2 separate regions of the Homo sapiens genome follow, and region 1 is reported to be linked to region 2. Evidence: microRNA targets listed by miRTarBase, many of them from high-throughput screens and not tested one by one. Region 2 holds a microRNA gene; the other region holds the end of a gene's coding sequence.
Evidence for each region. Region 2 holds the annotated microRNA hsa-miR-6812-3p (CCGCUCUUCCCCUGACCCCAG, at 1,363-1,383, shown strand). A microRNA usually pairs through its seed, bases 2 to 8, with sites in the 3' UTR of a target mRNA and lowers its output. Matches are read on the target gene's strand: a 7mer-m8 pairs with bases 2 to 8, a 7mer-A1 pairs with bases 2 to 7 and ends in A, and an 8mer does both.

Region 1 (3,403 bases), not on the chromosome of region 2:
TTATGTCGCATTTGGGCTAGGACACTGCTTTGGTGGACTCTCTTATCATTTGGTTCTTGTACCAGGACACAGACCAACCCCTTAGCTAAAAGGAACTCCCTGTTGTTTTTGCCTTTCCTCTACTGTAGTTGGATTCCTACAGTATTTTTCTGTAAAATAACCATTCCTATTTCTTAAGCATCAATGAAAAATAATAGTATTTTTCTTCTTCCAAAAGCTTGCCACTGCTTGGTTAAAAGAAGGGAGGGGGTGGGGAGATTGATGGGGGCAGGGAGGTTCACGATGCCATTACTTGAGCTGGCAGCCTCTTTGCTGCCCAACTTCAGGGAAATGATAGGAAGAGCAGGTATAATCAGGACAAGAAGGTCCCCAGGTTAGAGGGAGAGCAGTCATTCTGCCTGCTGACTTTAAAATGCTTTCTTGTCCTCTTATTTTAGAATGCAGGTCTGGTGACTGTCACTACCACTCCTCTCAACTGTGGCCCTCGACTGAGGGTGCTCCTGGGCCGCCCCGCACATGAAAAGCTGCTGATGCTGCTCCCCGTGGGGTACCCCAGCAAGGAGGCCACGGTGCCTGACCTCAAGCGCAAACCTCTGGACCAGATCATGGTGACAGTGTAGGCAGGGCCCCCCAAGGGAGTGGCAGGGAGATGGCGCCCCTGCTTTTCCCTGAGCCTCTCGCCTGCTCCTCTTGGGTCTCTTGGCTGCTCTTTCTCCAGGTGTCAGGTCCCCTCATTGCTCTTCTCAGGTGGCCACACTATGTCAAGAAGCCTCTCCACACTCTGTGGCACTTCCAGTCCCATAAATCCTGTTTCTTATCCACTTTGGAAATGCATGAACACTTTACAAAGAACATGCCCGGGTTTTTACATTTTAAAAGTTATTCTAGACAATCACTATTGGCTTTTTTCTTTTATTTTTAAAAAACTCACATAGAGGAGACAATCAGAAATTTACCATAGTCCCAAGAATTCAGCTACATGATGACTCGAATTTAAATTTAGATTAATCAAATGGTCTCCTGTTCTCTGATTTCTGGTGGCTTTTAGACACTAATTTTTGAGAACTACTTTTTTTTTTTTACCAAACTTCAGGGACACTCTGCTAGTTTTGAATAAGTAACCATCAAAGTTACTAAAACATGGCCAGGCGCAGTGGCTCATGCCTGTAATCCCAGCACTTTGGGAGGCCGAGGTGGGCAGATTGCCTGAGCTCAAGAGTTCGAGACCAGCCTGGCCAACATGGTGAAACCCCATCTCTACTAAAAATACAAAAAATTAGCTGGGCATGCACTTGTAATTCCAGCTACTCAGGAGGCTGAGGCAAGAGAACTGCTTGAATCCGGGAGGTAGAGATTGCAGTGAGTCAAGATGCTGAGATGCCACCACTGCACTCCAGCCTGGGCAACAGAGCGAGAACCTGTCTCAAAAAAAACAAAAACAAAGTTACTAAAATGTCACCTTCACAGAACAGGACAGGGTACCCTTGGGTCGCACGGGCCTGGCTGGCATGTAAACGGTCAGTTGCACTGCCTAGTGGTTTGGTAGATCTGACTTGTAAGCAGTTCATAGAAGCTGCTCAATACTCAAGAATCTTGCAAGACAGTTATTAAACATTCATAGCTTGAAATTGCCCATGGTGGGAGAGTTTACATCACAACCACTACAAATCAGCACTTGCTTTCTTCTTCTTAAAGAGAGCTGCTTACCATACATAGCACCCACAGTGTCTCCCTTCTCTTCTACCCCAACCCCTGAAACACACTGACCCCTATTCTCCAGATGACAGCACAGCTGTTTGGGACTGATAGGGTCACAGTTGCCAGGTTGGGAATGCTAGATGTAGTCTTCACCCATCACCTTCTGTCGTCCTCCCAGGGGTGTCATATTTACAGAGGCAAACTCTTACAGCTTGGATGATTTCTCATCAAGCAACTCTACTCACCTCTTTTTCCCCTTTCCCTGTGCGTTTCTTCTTCTTGTCCTCATTTTCCTTGAGAAAACTCTCTCTATAAAAAATTTCCATAGAGTATGTGGCTGATAAACAACAGAAATTTGTTTCTCACAGTTCTGGAGGCTGGAAGTCCAAGGTCGGGGTGCCCTCATGGTCAGGTGCTGGTGAGGACCCTGATCTGGGTTGCAGACTGCTGACTTCTTATTGTGTCCTCGTGGTAGAAAGAGGGTTAGAGCCTCTGGCATGCCTTTTATAAGGGTACTAATCCCATCATGAGGCCCCGTCCTTATGACCTCATCACCTCCCAAAGGACCCCCTCCTAATACCATCACATTGGGGGTTAGGGTTTCAACATATGAATTGCGGGGGACACAAACATTCCGTCCATGGCACCTACTTCATAGGGTTTGGCATGCTGCTCGGTACATGGTTAACATTCATAAATGGTGGGGGCCCTTACTGTGGTAGAAACCATTGTCACTGCAAGGCAGCCCTGCTTGGGATTCAGGTGAACAAATGTAACGTGGGTGGGTGAGGGACTCCCTCCTCTTCAGAGAAGCCCTCCTGTGGCTCAGGGGCAGCTGCAGGGCCAGATGGAGTTGGCCTGCAGGGAGTCAGCCTTACCCCATCAGAGACCAACTTGAAAGATTTTTTTCTCTGTGTAGTTCGTGTTATCAATCTGATCTGCAGCCAGGTTATTTACTTCTGAAGCATTGGAGTTATCGATTGCCATTGCCCCATGGTTCTCACTCTTTGCAGGCACTCTTCAAATTTTTATTTTAAAAATTATAATGCAAACATCTGGCCATCACCTTAACCAAGTGACAAAGTCCTAGCACACCATTAATGGTAGGATAACTGACATTAAGTGTTCCTGCTGGGATGAATTATGAAGTATTCCTTCCAAAGATGTCAATGGAAACTAATCGAGTCTTACACCTAATTTTCAGTTTACAGTAAATACAGAGGATAAAGAAGTTAATGGCATGGTGGAATAACCAAAATGTGTATCATTCTACAAAAAAATAGGCCTGGACTATTTAAGGAGTGAGTGTCACTGTGGGAAGAATAAGAGGGGGACTGTCTTGTCCTTGCTACTCAAAGAGTGGTCCTGGGCCTGTATCATCATTGGGACCACCTGGGCGCTTGTTAGAATCAAAGACTCTCAGGCCTCACCTAGACATCCAGAATCAAAATCTGCATTTTAACAAGATGCCCAGGTGATCTGCATGCCTGTTAAAGTCTGAGCTCTGTTGCAGATAACCAGAGACCCAACAACCAAAGGCAAAGCGTAAGCCTTGATTGGATTTTGGTTTAGGAAAAATCTCATAGGTATAAAAGACAACTGGGAATGTTGAATGTGGATCTGGTGGTAGGTGATATTGTTAGTGATGTGAGTGATGCCTGCTGAAGTACTGAGAGATGAAGCATCATATTGACAACTTACTCCA
Region 2 (3,403 bases):
TGTGGGTGACCTTGCATGTCTCCAGGTTACATCCACTACCAGCCTGCCCAGGACCGGCTGCAACCCCACCTCCTGGAGATGCTGATTCAGCTGCCGGCCAACTCAGTCACCAAGGTTTCCATCCAGTTTGAGCGGGCGCTGCTGAAGTGGACCGAGTACACGCCAGATCCTAACCATGGCTTCTATGTCAGGTGGGCTCCACCCCCACAGGCCACCTCTCATCCCCCTGACCTACCCTTTCTGCTGCTTACCCCTTGATAGGGCAGCCAGATGGGAACACGGGCCATCTCTCTGCTTCTCTGTAGCCCATCTGTCCTCAGCGCCCTTGTGCCCAGCATGGTAGCAGCCAAGCCAGTGGACTGGGAAGAGAGTCCCCTCTTCAACAGCCTGTAAGTGTGACCACACTCACTGATAACACATCCTCAGCTGCCTGCTGGGCCTTAACACAGGTGACCAGGCTCCTGCAGGGGAGTTCAGGGTAGATGTTACATCTTCCAAAGAGATGTGTAGATTTAATTCAATCCTAATAAAAATCCTGGCAGTCTGTGGAATTTGTGAAGACTTTATAAAATGATTTTAAAGTGCTTCTAGAAGAATACTTTTACTTACAGCCTACATTTACTTCTTGATGCTCTTAAATATTTAATCAAGCACTTATCAAATGCCAAGTGCTTCTGAGAGCACTGAGTGTGCAAGATTAAACAAAACAGACTTGGCCCTGGCCTCCCTTTGCTTACAGTCTAGAAGGAAGATTCTGGTCTAGAGAGTAATGGGGTTAGAGGTTGGGTAGGAATTGATTTACTGGGTTATCTAGGAAGGCTTCATTTAGGAGGTGGCATTTAGGCTGAAACCAGGCTAAGAAAGAAGCAACCAAGCAAAGGCGGGGCCCCTTTCCTCCACCTCAACACCAGGCGTCTCTCTTTCTTTCCTTTCTCTCTCTTTCTTTCTTTCTCTTTCTTTCTTTCTTTCTTTCTTTCTTTCTTTCTTTCTTTCTTTCTTTCTTTCTTTCTTTCTTTCTCTTTCTTTCTTTCTTATTTATTTTTTATTTTACTTTAAGTTCTGGGATACATGTGCAGAACATACAGGTTTGTTACATAGGTATATATGTGCCACGGTGGTTTGCCGTACCCATCAACCCATCATCTAGGTTTTAAGCCCCGCATGCATTAGGTATTTGTCCTAATGCTCTCCCTCCCCTTGCCCCCCGCCCGCCGCTCCCCTTTATCAGGTTTAGAGATTGAGCTATGCCTTCTGTTGAAAGGTTTTGAGCCTAAGAGAACATTGGAAACACTGTGTTGCATTGCCCAATACTGCCGGAATGAGGATGGGGTGAGATGGGGAGGAGCAGCCAGTCCTGTCTCACCGCTCTTCCCCTGACCCCAGGTTCCCAGTCTCTGATGGCTCTAACTACTTTGTGCGGCTCTACACGGAGCCGCTGCTGGTGAACCTGCCGACACCGGACTTCAGCATGCCCTACAACGTGATCTGCCTCACGTGCACTGTGGTGGCCGTGTGCTATGGCTCCTTCTACAATCTCCTCACCCGAACCTTCCACATCGAGGAGCCCCGCACAGGTGGCCTGGCCAAGCGGCTGGCCAACCTTATCCGGCGCGCCCGAGGTGTCCCCCCACTCTGATTCTTGCCCTTTCCAGCAGCTGCAGCTGCCGTTTCTCTCTGGGGAGGGGAGCCCAAGGGCTGTTTCTGCCACTTGCTCTCCTCAGAGTTGGCTTTTGAACCAAAGTGCCCTGGACCAGGTCAGGGCCTACAGCTGTGTTGTCCAGTACAGGAGCCACGAGCCAAATGTGGCATTTGAATTTGAATTAACTTAGAAATTCATTTCCTCACCTGTAGTGGCCACCTCTATATTGAGGTGCTCAATAAGCAAAAGTGGTCGGTGGCTGCTGTATTGGACAGCACAGAAAAAGATTTCCATCACCACAGAAAGGTCGGCTGGCAGCACTGGCCAAGGTGATGGGGTGTGCTACACAGTGTATGTCACTGTGTAGTGGATGGAGTTTACTGTTTGTGGAATAAAAACGGCTGTTTCCGTGGTTCTTTGCCTCTTGTCCTTGAGTCCTGGGAAGAGCTGGGGACTGGGGATTGTTTGCTGAGTGCCTGAACAGGACCTCCTACCCTATGCCTGCAACCCCCTCCACAAAAAACAAAAAACCCTACCTCCTCCCACCTGGCCGGAAATTTCTTCTCCTGATCTGCTCCCCCTGTCCTCCCCATCCCCATCTGATTGTGATTCCCAGAACTCCCCGGGTTGTTTGGGAGTGTTTCTGAAAGCATAATCCATGGCCATGGAAATGAATCATCCTACTTCTTGGGGGCATTGAGAGTCAGTCCACATCAGCAAGGGTAGAGTGGAGAGGTGGGAGGGCTCTGGGTGGTGGGTCTCTAACTGTAGTGTGCATCAGAGTCACTGGGGGCACTTGTGAAAATAATGTATGTTCCTGGGGTCCAGATCCTACTAATTCAGTTGGTCTGGGTGTGGCCCAGACTTTGACTTTTTAGCAGGCTTCTCAGGAGCTCCTGCTGTGCTCTGTCCTCAGACCACCCCCAGGCTTTGAAGCCAGGCTCATTGGATTGAAGCCCGCCCCGCCCACCTCCCTTGCTGGTTACATAACCCTGGATTTCTGTAAAACAAGCCTTTAGGCGGTTGCCTCCCACTGCCCTCATCTTCTGTCTTTTCCTCTGGCACACTTGGCATCAACTGTGTGTTATTTGCAGTTCCCCCCACCTCCTACCCCACTCAGTTCTCCCATCATAGTGGTTTGGCCTAGAATGCCCTATTCCACCAACCATGCACACCTCTCAACTGCCTGGTTCCCTCATAAAACCAGATGAGGCTGGCCGGGCACGGTGTCTCATGCCTGTAATCCCAGCACTTTGGGAAGCCAAGGTGGGCAGATCACAAGGTCAAGAGATCGAGACCATCCTGGCCAACATGGTGAAACCCCGTCTCTACTAAAAATACAAAAAAAAATTAGCTGGGCATAGTGGCGCGCGCCTGTAGTCCCAGCTACTCGGTAGGCTGAGGCAGGAGAATCGCTTGAACCTGGGAGGCAGAGGTTGCAGTGAGCCAAGATTGCGCCACTGTACTCCAGCCTGGTGACAGAGTGAGACTCTGTCTCAAACACACACACACACACACACACCCCAGATGAGAAGTTGCTGCCTCCGGGAAGTTTCCCTTGACGTGTCCGTGCCCCACGCCTTTGCTTCCAGATTGCCTTGGACTTAACACGTGTTCCTTATCAGCTGGCTGCTGTCCTTTGACTTCCACCAGATGGTGTGCTTCCTGGAGGCACAGGTTCTGTCTTTCATTAAGACCTGACCCATCTCAGGACATGTAAGTGCTCAATCAGCAAACGCTAAATGTATTAACTGGGTATGGGCT

Region 1: miRTarBase lists IYD as a target of hsa-miR-6812-3p. Seed matches in the 3' UTR shown: 7mer-A1 at 1,408-1,414.

What each region holds. Positions count from the first base shown.
Region 1 is chr6:150,397,618-150,401,020 of GRCh38, forward strand. IYD (iodotyrosine deiodinase) reads left to right here. Exons shown (of 5, transcript NM_203395.3): 5 at 438-3,403. The coding sequence ends at 620. Among named protein-coding and RNA genes, the nearest start is that of IYD, 30 kb to the left of the region's middle.
Region 2 is chr20:45,424,191-45,427,593 of GRCh38, forward strand. It overlaps MIR6812 (microRNA 6812), which reads left to right and starts at 1,320; the gene lies at 1,320-1,383. PIGT (phosphatidylinositol glycan anchor biosynthesis class T) reads left to right here. Exons shown (of 12, transcript NM_015937.6): 10 at 26-191; 11 at 306-389; 12 at 1,384-2,051. The coding sequence ends at 1,636. It overlaps LOC105372631 (a long non-coding RNA gene), which reads left to right and starts at 3,232. Exons shown (of 4, transcript NR_159957.1): 1 at 3,232-3,355.